3 separate regions of the Homo sapiens genome follow, and all the other regions are linked to region 3. Evidence: fine-mapped expression QTL. A gene starts in region 3. Each other region holds a variant in brackets. All regions are shown on one strand. Distances are from middle to middle.

Region 1 (4,122 bases), 55 kb after region 3:
TAAATATACAAAACATTAGCCAGGCGCGGTGGCGGGTGCCTGTAGTCCCAGCTACTCGGGAGGCTGAGGCAGGAGAATGGTGTGAACCCGGGAGGTGGAGCTTGCAGTGAGCCGAGATCGCGCCACTGCACTCCAGCCTGGGCGACAGAGTGAGAATCCGTCTCAAAATAAATAAATAATATATTAATTAATTAATTAATTAAGTTATACGACATATGGCTTTAAGGTATAGACCTAGGAATGGAATTGCTGCATCATATGGTAATTCTGTTTAACTTTTTTTTCAGACAGGTTCTAGCTCTGTCACCTAGGCTGGAGGGCAGTGGCATTACCAAGGTTCACTGCAGCCTTGATCTCTCAGGCTCAAGCGATCCTCCAACCTCAACCTCCTAAGTAGCTGGGACTACAGGGCTCTGTCATCACGCCTGGCCATTTTTAAATTTATTTCTTTGTAGAGACGGGGTCTCTCTATGTTGCCAAGGCTGGTCTTGATCTCCTGGGCTCAAGTGATCCTCCCACCTTGGCCTCCCAAAGTGCTGGGATTCCCGGTGTGAGCCACCGAGTTCGGCCTGTTTAACTTTTTGAGGAACCACCAAACTGCTGTCCACAGCTGCAGCCCCATTTTACATTCCCACCAGCAATCTGTGGGGGTCCCAATTCCTCTACACCCTCACCAACTGCTGTTATTTTCCTTGTATTAGGACTACTTGGATTACTTTTTGCAGCTGTCCTCACGGGTAGGACCTGGTGTCTCATTGGGGTTTCTGTTTGCATTCTCCTAACGACTAATGACCTTGAGCATCTCTTCCTGAGCTTATTGGTCGTTTGTATATCTTTCTGAGGAACATGGCTATCAAATACTTTGTCCATTTTTATATCGAGTCACTTCTTATAATTCATTATTATTATTGTAACTATCTTTATTTGAATTATGTTTTCTATTTGCTGATGTTAAGAAATACAATGGCTTTTTATGTGGATCTTGTAAGCCGGCTACCTTGTTAACTTTCTTTTAGTAATTTCTCTACAGATTCATTTTGTTTTTGTAATAATCATTGCCTGGAATTTATGAATTATGTTCTTCCTTTCCAATCCTGGTTCTCTTCACTGCTGTTCCAGTGAATGACAAGGTGTGAGGCTGCCCTGCGTTAAACCTCGGCTGGATCTCTGCCGTGCCGCTGAGGGGAGAGTATTCCCACCTTGGCTCTGGATTTTTTTTTTTTTTTTGACGGAGTCTCACTCTGTCACCCAGGCTAGAGGGCAGTGGTGCAATCTCGGCTCACTGCAAGCTCCACCTCCCGTGTTCACGCCATTCTCCTGCCTCAGCCTCCTGAGTAGCTGGGATTACAGGCGCCCGCCACCACACCTGGCTAATTTTTTGTATTTTTAGTAGAGACGGGGTTTCACCGTGTTAGCCAAGATGGTCTCCATCTCCTGACCTCGTGATCCGCCCACCCCGGCCTCCCAAAGTGCTGGGATTACAGACGTGAGCCACCGTGCCCAGCCTGGGCTCTGGATTTTTAAAGGGGATGCACCGGTGTTTCCCCATTTTTGGTCTGCTGTAGGTTTTTGGTAAGTTTCCCATTTCTAAGTTTGAAAAGTCTCTTCCTTTTTTCCTGAGTGTGTTTTGAGTTGTGTTGAGTGATTTTCGGCATCCACTGGGATGAGCCTGTCTTCCCCTTTAATCCGTTCATGCGGTGAATGAAAGTTATCGATCTTCTCGGTCTAAATCACTCACATTCCTGGGATAATCCCAGCAAATCCCAACACAGTCATGAGTGTCATCACCTTTTAAAAATAGACGCCGTGAGTTCAGTGTGCTAATGATTTGTTTAGGGTTTGTACGTCTTTGTTTGGGAGTGAGATTGTACTAAAACATGATTTTTCTTGGACTATTCTTGTCTGGTTTGTTTTAAAGATTGTAATGGCTTCACAATGATTCAGGGAGTGCTCCCTCCTTTCTACTCTCAGGAAGAGTTTGTAAAAGACTGGAACGTTCTGTTCCTTGAAAGTTTGGTAGAACACATCTGTGCAACCCTGGGCAGGGGAAAATAAGAACCCTGTGAGTTCTTAGTC[G/A]GAACAGATCCCTCTTACAAAACAGAGATGAATAGAAGAAAAACAAGCAGAGGCTTATTAACATGTGTGTTTCACGTATGTGTGGGAGATGCCTAGGGCATGAGTCACTCTCAACGAGGCGGCTTTGAATTCCAGCTTGTAGAGCATCTTTAACAAAGAGCGATAGATTTTCAGAGAAGTTCTGGGCAAAAAAGAAAGACTTGGAGTCTCTGTAGGCAGGAACTTGAGGAAAAGCGAATAAATGTCAGATAAAGGCTCCTTCATAAAGCTTGTTGGTGCAGATTATTCTGGAACTATCTTCAGGTGCAGGTGATGAGGGTCTGAAGCTGTCTTCAGTGGTTAACCTTTGTTCTCCCTAGTAGAGGGGGGCAGGATTCCTTCGTCTTTGTAAGCCCGTGTCCTGTGTCGAGGGGGGACCGGGAGCTCTACCTCCGTTGCTCCTCGCAGAGGCCCTCAGCCCCACAGGCCTGCTTTTCAGGAGGCGCGTTCTGGTCTCCCACACCTGTCAACCTGAGTTTTCTTGCAGGAGATTTTAAATCAATGGTTAAATGTCTTTAATGGTTGTAGAATTATTAGGTCATCTCTTCCTTCTTGAATCAATTTTTTGTCATGATCTTCTGCGAATGTATTCATTTTCCACAATTTTCTGGGAATGTATCCATTTAAAATCTTACCTGTTTTGGAAAAGATTTCAAACGGACTGGTTCCTGATATGTTTATCTTTAAACTTCTGCTTGTGTTTGATGATTCTCCTTTTCATTCCTAATACCGACTCTGTTCTCTCTCTCTCTGTTTTTGCCAGTGGCGTCTGTCACCTTCATCTTTCTAATAATCAGCCAACATTTGTCTTTGATCCACCCGATTTGCCTTTTATTTTCTATTTCCTGAGTTTCTGCTCATATTTGTATCTTTGTCCTGCTTTTATTGCTTTAGCCTCTTGTTCTTTTTGTCACTTACGTTGAAGGCTTGGCTCATTAATTTCCATTGTTTCCTTCTTTTAAATCTGTCTAATTTCTGGAGTGAGTTAGTTGCACTTTGCAATATTCCATATGTACGTGGAGAGTTTCATGTACTCATACATAATAGGCAGTGCACCCACTGTAATCTGGTTCTAAGCATTTCTCATTTCTATCATGTGTTATTCTTTAACTCACGGCTTTTAGAAGTGTATATTTTATTTTCCAAATAAATGGTAATTTTGGAAGGTTCTACTTCTTTTTTTTTTTTTTTTTTTTTTGAGATGGAGTCTGGCTCTGTCGCCCAGACTGGAGTGCAGTGGCGTGATCTCGGCTCACTGCAAGCTCCGCCTCCCAGGTTCAAGCAATTCTCCTGCCTCAGCCTCCCGAGTAGCTGGGACTACAGGTGCCCGCCAGCACACCTGGCTAATTTTTTTTTTTTTTTGTAATTTTAGTAGAGACGGGGTTTCACCGTGTAAGCCAGGATGGTCTCGATCTCCTGACATTGTGATCCACCCACCTTGGCCTCCCAAAGTGCTGGGATTACAGGCGTGAGCCACCGCGCCCAGCCCCTGAAAGCTTCTTCTTATCTCAAATTATTAAGATCAGTTGTAAGATCTCATGTTGACTGTTAGCTCGTTGCATCCTGGTCAGGAAACATTGTTGCTACAGCATGAACTGACTGAAGTCAGCTCACTCACTTCCTGTGGGATGTGCAGCTACTTTTCCCAAGTGCTGCATGTACTTTGAGAACAGGAAGGCCCCTTGGACTGCCAGGGTGCCAAGCCTGGGAGGGATGTCCATTCATTTGTCCACATAGCTAGGAAACCCTACACCACAGCTCAGTGTCTCAGTAGGGCACTGCTCGACGACTCAGAAGGATGCCAACTTCCCCGGTGCCCCAGGCAGGGAGAGTGTCTCGGCTCCAGTTGACCTAGACTCTCCTTCAAGTCTTGCCCAAGCTCTCCGACCTTCCTCGGTCTCCCTCAGGGCAGCCTGCACTTCCATATACGGAGGTTCTCATCGTTTCTTGCCTCTCTGCCTGCACTTTTTTCTGCCATCTACACCTATTAGCTGACATTTGTCTGTA
Region 2 (4,122 bases), 69 kb before region 3:
CAGGTCCCTGTAGAACAATGGCTTCCTCACCACATAGGTGCTAAGCACACACATGCGCACACACGTGCACACACACGCCGTTGTCCCTATGGGGGGACTTGGATGCCGGCTACAGAGCACCATTGCATGCTGGGAGCCTCACCACATGGGAGCACTGGCAGGCAGGACACAGGCCCGAGGGCACAGAGGTCCCCAGCCCTCCTGGCTGTCCCAGCTCCACCTCTGGCCCAGCACCTCAGGCCCAGGTCGGGCCACCCCCCAGGTCCCACACCCCCATGCCCTCACAGAGGGCCCCTGGGCCTCCACTCTGGCCTCCCCAGCCCATCTCCAATCAGCAGCCAAACACACCTGAAACAGGATTTCAGTCCCGGGCTCAGCCCTTGCGTGGGTCTGAGCATGTGAGCAGCTCCACCGTCCAGGCCACCCCATCCTGAAGCTGACCTCACCACCAGCCCCTGGAGCCGAGCCTGGCCACCGTCATGCCCATGGCCACGTTGCCCTCCTCGCCTGCCTGGCCTCCCCCATGCACCCAGTCCTCAGAGAGGCCTCTGGCGCCACCCCACAGGCACACATGCTCGGCCACAGGCCCCAGGTGGCTCCTTCCATGAAGACCTGCGAGGGCACCAGCCTGTCTCTTCACAGTGGCATCTGCAGCGTCCACACCAGAGCACAGCACAGTACCGGGCTCCATAAACACCGGCCCCATATTAGACAGGGGGGTCCGTGCCTCGGCCTGGCAGTGCCAGCCCGAAACCCTCCAACCGGTCGCCTCCCCCAGCCCAGCACCCACTCTCTGCACAGAGTGCGCTGCACGGACCGGACCTGGTGAGGAGCACACCCAGCCTCGCTGCCAGCTCTCCACGGCCCCACTGGGGATGCTCACCCAGCCCTGGAGGGAGCCCCCAGGTTCTCTGATTCTCTGAACCCCGCGGGGAGCGGGGAGGGAGCCGGAATGTGAACAGTGAGCCCGAGGAGGATCTGGCCAGGCTCACCGGCAGGCGGGCAGTGGACCGACTGTGACACAGAAACATGTTGCCCAGCACAGGCAGCGGAGCCGAGAGACCCAGCCACAGCCCAGGCCTGCGCTCCCCATAGACACACCAGACTCCATGGAGGAATGCCAAAGCAAAAAGGCACCTTATTGGCTAAGTAATGAATCCAAAAGAACACGTTTCAGTGGTTCTTACCTGGTAAAATTCCCGAAGCCAGTTCTTCTGCAGGTTTTCTGGCTGTAAATTAAGAAGAAAAAGAAAAGCCAGTCAGACCAATGGCACAGCCCTAAACAGAGCCAGGACAAGCTCCTGTGAAGACAACGTGGGGCAGGAGCAGAGGCGCAGCCCGGGCCCACCCCGCATGGAGGAGCTCCACCCGCACGGGGAAACCCCAGGCCCACGCGGGGACCCCGCTCTGTGTGGGGGCTCCGCTCTGTGCTGTCCCAGGGACATGGTGCACGATGCACTCTGTCTCAGGAAAGCTCGGGCAGCGTCGCGCAGCCCCCACACGGGTGGCGAGGAGGGGAAGGCTCTGTGTTGCTCCAGCCTCCAGCCTCCCAGGGAAGAGACGGCTCAGCCAGTAACCCAGCTTCAACAAGCAAGACGGTGGCACCTTTCCACACCCGCCCCTGCCTGAGCCAAAGCCCCTTCACAGGCA[C/G]TAGACAAAGCTGAGCTTTGTGGAGTACAAAACATCATGGTCGCATATGGCATTTCTGTGTGTTTGGGGTGAAGAGCAAGGGGCTTTTATAGAGTCCGTCACAACTGTCAGAATCTTCAGAAAGCACTTGCTAGAGCCATCAACAGAAAACCTACCACATGCCACAGGCGTGCACACACGTGCACACACGCAAGGAAACTCCAGCCCCGCCAGAGACCCAGGCCCCAGGAAGCTCCTGGACAGAATCGGAGGAGCTAAGCGCAAGCCTGAAAATGCCACTGCTTCAGGAGAAGGGACGGCCCAGTCGCTCTCCACCCTGACCGCTCCGCTGAGCCCCAGGCCACCTGGCTGCTCCTGGGCTCTGTGCCAGCTCCGGCCAAGGGCAGCACAGCCATTCAAACCCAAGAGGAGGGAGGTCACCGCGGACGAGGCTGAGCGCGAGCACTCAGCACAAGCCGCCCACGCTCAGGAAGCACCCCAGCTCCAACATCGCCCACCGTGAGGGGACAGAGTCAGCATCTAAAAGGGTAGAGTTTCCATTTTGCGAGAGAACAAGTTCTAGAGATCCGTGCAACAACGTGAATGTACTTAGCACTAAGGAACTGCACACTCGGAAACGGTTAAGGTGGTAAATTTAATGTTGTGGGTTTTTGCCGCGATTAAAAACAATAAACAAGGCCCTGCCCCCGCTCCCATCGGGACTAAAGCCCCTGCCCTGGTCTCAGCCTCCGTGGCCGTGGGCATGGGGCCAAGGCGTGCAGGCCGCCAGTGCAGCTGGGCCCAGACTCCGCGCCCACGCAAACACAACAGCATCGCAAGGCTGGCCACACACCAGGCGCGCTCCTCCGTTCACTTGCTGACGGGTCTAAGAACCCTAAAAAGCAGGAAGACTGAATTTTAGATAAATTAATGAAAAATAAAAAACCTGACAAGAAACAAGAGCTTCACAGATCACAGGACCGAGCCGAGAACACCCTGGCTCCAGGCTTCAAGGACACACAACCCCAGCACACACACACGCGAAGGGAGAGAATCGCCCACTGCGGCTCTGAGCACCCCCATGCCCTGCCCTCTGGGTCCAGGGACCTCCTCGTGGGACGCACGCAACCGCCCCAGCAGGAGGGGAGGCCATCAGCCCACGCCACTGTCCCGCCACTGAGGACCCGGCAGGAGGGGAGGCGACTGACCCACGCCGCTGTCCCGCCACTGAGGACCCGGCAGGAGGGGAGGCGACTGACCCACGCCGCTGTCCCGCCACTGAGGACCCTCAGCCCACGTGGACAGCCTCCCTTGGCCCCAGCTCCTACCAGCAAGTCCCCATCGAGGGTCCCAGCCCCACATCCAGCTGCAGCTGCGTGCCCAGCAGCCCTGCCCAGGAGCCACCCTAAACACCAAACGCACAAATGTGACAGCGGACACCTGGACACACCGTTCACTGTGTGCACCTCGCCCCAGTAACACGCGCTCCAGCCCAATTCATGGGTCATGACCTCATTTAAACCGTGGATATGACTTCCCCCAACATTGACTGTGGATCCACTAAGGTTAATAAGCCCAGACAGTCCTAACACGGTGCTCTAAACAAAGACATCCGTGTTTGCTGACTGTTTATGAGGAGGCACTCAAAGGCTGTGAAATAATTAGACCAAAAGTCTAAATGAAAGATGAGAGCAAAAACACTCCAAAGAAGGAAGAGAAGAAACGTGAAAAAAAGACAAGGCCCTCAAGGCCTTCAGTTCTTGCCTTTGGCACACACCCCAACACTAGTCGGGGCCACTGTGACGGCCACGGTGACCATGGGGCCCTGCCCAGGGGCCACTTTCTGGCCCGCGTGGCGCTGCTGCGTCTGCCTGGCTGACCCCAGCTTGGAAGCTCCCAGGGCCTCCTGGGCCCCATCCCACCATCCCACCATCCCACCAGCCTCCCTTGGCCTCAGTGCCACTGTGTCACTTCCAGGACATCCCCCAGGGGATCCACGCCCTCCCTGTCCCCTCCCCATCCCCAGCCCCTTCCCCATCCCTCCAAGGGATCCACACCCTCCCCATCCCCTCCCCATCCCCAGCCCCTTTCCCATCCCTCCTGGGGATCCACTCCCTCCCTGTCCCTTCCCCATCCCCCAGCCGCTTCCCCCTCACTCCTGGGGGATCAATGCCCTCCCCATCCCCTCCCCATCCCCAGCTGCTTCCCCCTCACTCCTGGGGGATCCACCCACTCCCCATCCCCAGCCCCTCCCCCACTCCCTCCTGGGGGATCCACTTCTTCCCCATCCCCAGCCCCTCCCCCACTCCCTCCTGGGGGATCCACTTCTTCCCCATCCCCAGCCCCTTCCCCACTCCCTCCTGGGGGATCCACTTCTTCCCCATCCCCAGTCCCTTCCCACTCCCTCCTCAGGGATCTCCCTGCTCTGTCCTTACCTGCTTCCAGTCTACACTCCACAGGCAGCCAGGGTGATTCTCAGAAAACACAAGTGGA
Region 3 (4,122 bases):
ACGCGTGCATCAGTGGCACACATCCGTCATAAAGCTGGTGCGGTGCCCCACTGTTCACCTAGGGAGGGAGGGAGGGAGGGAGGGAGCGTCCGTGGCTCCACGGCCTCCATCTGGGCCACTTGGAGCCTCACTCTGCTTTATTTGGGTTGGCAGCAGGAGTACCAACAGCAGGGTGGCACCGTGGCTGAAACGCCAAACTAGGTCAGACCGGCCTGCCTCTGGGGAGCTCCCAGTGCGCCCTGGGCCTCAGCTCCCTGGTCTCTCCAGAGATGGGGGCACCCTGGGATCCTGGGTGGGAATGAGGCTTGGGTGGGAGGGGCCCTAGAAGGTAAAGGCCATAGGCAGTCAGCATCCCCTTTCTGGCCCTGAAGAGCTTCTCAGCATCTTTTTCTTCAATAAACAAGAAATATAAAGTCCTACAGTGCTTTACAGACTTCCCTTATTTACGAACTAAAGAGATACTAAGTGGCAGGGTTAAATGGGGGCACCCTACCCTCTGGCCCTGCAGGGACAGACAGACAGTGAGGCCGGCACCCAGGCATCCAGGAGCTGGGGCTGACAGCCAGAGTGGAGGGCCTAGGCTCAGAGGACAGGGGCCAGGGGTGGGAGTCAAGGGTTAGGGTTTGGGAATTCTGCAGGCTCAAGGCCCAGGCTTTAAGACCAGGATTCAGGATTCAGGATTCAGGGGCAGGAGCTTGTTGGAGGAAGGGGCCAAGGATGGGATCTAGGAACCAGAGTTAGGGGCAGGGTCCAGAATTGGGTTTGGGGCCTGATTCTGGAACCAGGGTTCCAGGTTCAGGGGTCAAGGACAAGTGTTCAGGGCCATAAGCTGGGGCCTGAGGTTGAAATTCAGGGTTCAGAGTCAGGCTAGATTGGCTTTAGAGGCAAAGGGCCACAGTATGAAGGCTGGGATTCTAGGGCTAGAATTCAGTGATTGGGGAACAGGGACAGGAGGTTGGGGCCACAGCCCTGTGTCAGAAGTTCCTGGGTTAGGGTTTGTGGTTATGTTTCAGGGTTTGGGGTCCAGGGCTCAGGGACCAGAGACAGACGTTTGAGAGCAGGTTCTGTAACCAGAGTTCTGCAGTCAGGATTTGTGGTTCCAGTGACCATGGACCTGGGGTTCAGGGCCAGGGTTGGGGATGGGCATTCCAGGGCCAGGGTTCTGAGGATTCGGAAATCAGGGCTGGGGCTGGGTTTGGTGCGCACAGACCCGGTTTCTGGGGTTTGGGTTCCAGGAACTGTTAACAGGGGTTCTGACAGGGTTTTAATATTGGAGTTTCGAGGTCAGGATTTGCAGACAGGAGTTCAGAGGCAGGGTCCCAGGGTCAACGGTCAGCTGCTGGAGTCTGGAGGATGGGGTTCGGGGATTCAGGGCCCAGGTCTTCAGGTCTCGGGCTTGGGGATCAAGACAGGGGTCTGGGCTCCCAGACTTGGGAATCAGGACAGGAGTCTGGGGTCCCGGGTACAGGGATCAGAGTCTGGGGCCTCTGGGTCTGGAGGTTCACGGTCCAGGGTCCAAGGCTTGCAGTTCGGGACCCCGGGGTCAGGGTCGGGGGTTCCGGGCTTGGGGCCTGCCGCCGGCACGGGGGACTTACGTCGTCGAAGAGCGAGCCCACGTTGGCCGTGACCAGCAGCACCGCGGTGCCCGGGGCGGCCGCCTTCCCCGCCATGGTGCCCGGGCGGCGCGGGCGCTGGGCTGGGCGGCGGCGGCGGCGGCCGCTTCCTCCGGGACCGGCCGGCCGGGGTCTTCGCGGGGCCGCGGGGCGTCAGCTGCGCCGGGGGGCGGCCCCGGGGCGCATCGCGGGCTCGGCGGGTCGGCCGGGCCTGGCCGGGGCTCCGGCCTCGCGCTCGCTCGCTCGCTCGCTGCTCCGCGGCCCCGCGCCCGTCGCTCGCCGCCGCGCCTCACAGCGGCCCGCGCGCAGCCATTAGATCCGCTGGGAAAGTTCCCGCAGCCGCCGCCGACTCAGGCTGAGGGCAAGTCCCGCCCCGCGGAGCCGAGCCCGGGGCGGGGCCTGGGCGGGGCGGAGCCTGACTCGGGGTGGGGCCTGTGCGGGGTGGAGCCGGGCCTGGGGCGGAGCCTTGCTGGGGGCGGAGCCTTGAGGTGCGGAGCCTGAGTTGGGCCTAGATCTGAACAGAGTGGGGCGGGGCCTGCGGGGGGCGTGGCTTGTGCGGGACTTGGTGTCCTTGTGGAGGCGGGGCCTGCCCCGGGGCGGGGCCTCCTTTCGGGGCGGGGCCTACGCGGGGCGCTCTTGCGACCGGCGGCCTAGTACTGGTCGCTCCCGGAGGGCGCTCCTGTCAGTCAGGCCCGCAAGAACGCCGCGCCCCCGCCCCGCCCCCCGCGCCGCGGCTGCGCACAGACTCCGCCCTTCGCACTTCTATGACGTCACGGCCCTGCTCCGGCGGCGCCTCTTAAAGGGGCCCTGGGTTCCGGGCGCCGGCGGCGGGTGCGCTCTCTTGCGGCTCTGAGGGGATGTTCCAGCCCCCGCGCGGCCGCAGTCGTCCAGCCGCGTGCCGGGCGTGCGGGGGAGGGGAGCCCACCGGGGCGGCGGCAGTCGCGCCTGCAGGGGCCGGGCCACGCGCGCCCGGCTCTCCGCGCAGACGGAGCGTGGACCGTGCAGCTTCCCGGCGCGTCCACCCGGCTCCCTGGCCGCGACCTCACTCACGAGGAGCGGCTGCGGCCCAGAGAAGACGGAGGGGAGGCGGCGTGAGGCCAGGCGCATCCTGACGTCGCGGAGGGCTCCGGCCCGGGCCAGGCTGGGTCTCAGCGCGGGGCGTGCAGGGAACCCTCGCAGGGACGAAGGGGGCTCCAGGGGAGGGGGCTGGTGCGGGCCCAGGAGCGCAGAGCACGGAGGAGCAGCCGGCTCGGCGCGGGCCCCGGGGCAGCGATGCTGATCCTGGCCGCCGGAGGGGCCAGAGCATGGGCTGGACCCTGGGTCTGAGGCCGCGGGGACACAGCCGCCGTGAACCGGGACATGCCTGTAGATGGAGGAGGAGAACCACATTTGTCATCTTAAAGCTTCCAGTAGCTACATTTTTTAAAGGTAACAAGTAATAGCCAAAGTTAACAATACGTTTTACTTAACCCAATAGATAGATACATCATTCAACATGTAACCAGAATTTAACAACCTCAGTGAGATTCCTTCACAGGAAGGCTTTGCACGGGCACCTGCCTCTTGGCAGCAGCTCACAAGGCCGCTTCCAGTGCTCAGCAGCCCTGTGTGGCCAGTGGCCACCATGCGGAGCAGGCACTCCGGAGGATTTTGTGGACACAGATTTAGGGGCGGTCAGGGCCTGGCAATGGGCTCTAGCGAGGCTAGCCTCCAGCTTCTGAGTAAACCGCCAAGGCAATGCCCAATGACATCAAAAGGGGCTTGTTCTGTTCTAGGAAGACACCTGCTGCCAGGGCGGGGCGGCAGGAATGGTGCTGCAGGCTCGGGCCCCAGGCCTGTGCTGAGGCCGCATCACTGGCTTGTGTTAACACCCCCAGGGTTCCTCCTTACGGCCACCGCTGAGCAGGACTCCAGCAAAATCCATTTGATGTATAAACCAATGTCTACTTTAGTCAGTAGGTGCCTGCTACAGACTGAATTCCGCCCGCCCCACCCCACCCCACCCCGCAAATTCATGGGTTGAAGCCCTAACCTCCAATGTGACTGTATTCGGAGGTGGGCTAGCGGGGGTAATTAATGTTAAGTCGTGCAGTAGGGCTGGTGTTTAATGTTAAGTCGTGCAATAGGGCTAGTGTTTAATAGAAAGGGCTCAGTGCTGTCCCCACCCTTACATGTGCAAAAGAAGTGGCAGTGTGAGTGCACAGTGGGAAGCTTCACCCCAGCCAGCCACAAACCCTGCACCAGAAATCCAACGCTGCTGGAACTTGATCTTGGATTTCCAGCCCCCAGAACTGTGAGAAGTAAAAGTCTTGTTTCAGCCTCCCAGCCTGTGATATTTCGCTACAGCAGCTGAAGCTGACTGATGTAGTCGCTTATTTTTCTTTTTAACAAAATCAGCACATGCTAAGGGTACCCTTAGTAGAAACCAAATGTGGGGGTGTCACTGATCCCTGGAACGTGCTTTCTGAGAAGGGACATTGCCTCCTCACTTCTCCCCGCAGGCTGTGCC

What was found.
Region 1: its variant is fine-mapped to the expression of INPP5A in fibroblasts (GTEx, PIP above 0.99).
Region 2: its variant is fine-mapped to the expression of INPP5A in tibial artery (GTEx, PIP 0.96). The same link has a PIP of 0.9 or more in whole blood.

The regions. Positions count from the first base shown.
Region 1 is chr10:132,480,266-132,484,387 of GRCh38, reverse strand. No RefSeq gene overlaps it. Among named protein-coding and RNA genes, the nearest start is that of LINC02870, 37 kb to the right of the region's middle. RefSeq lists an enhancer at 3,417-4,016. The variant G/A (reference allele first, on the strand shown) is at 2,077.
Region 2 is chr10:132,605,022-132,609,143 of GRCh38, reverse strand. INPP5A (inositol polyphosphate-5-phosphatase A) reads right to left here. Exons shown (of 16, transcript NM_005539.5): 2 at 1,188-1,229. Among named protein-coding and RNA genes, the nearest start is that of INPP5A, 69 kb to the right of the region's middle. RefSeq lists an enhancer at 540-1,041. The variant C/G (reference allele first, on the strand shown) is at 1,651.
Region 3 is chr10:132,535,645-132,539,766 of GRCh38, reverse strand. It overlaps INPP5A (inositol polyphosphate-5-phosphatase A), which reads right to left and starts at 1,980. Exons shown (of 16, transcript NM_005539.5): 1 at 1,596-1,980. The coding sequence starts at 1,670. It overlaps LOC107984282 (a long non-coding RNA gene), which reads left to right and starts at 2,844. Exons shown (of 4, transcript NR_158224.1): 1 at 2,844-3,041. RefSeq lists an enhancer at 1,030-1,079 and a silencer at 1,860-2,959.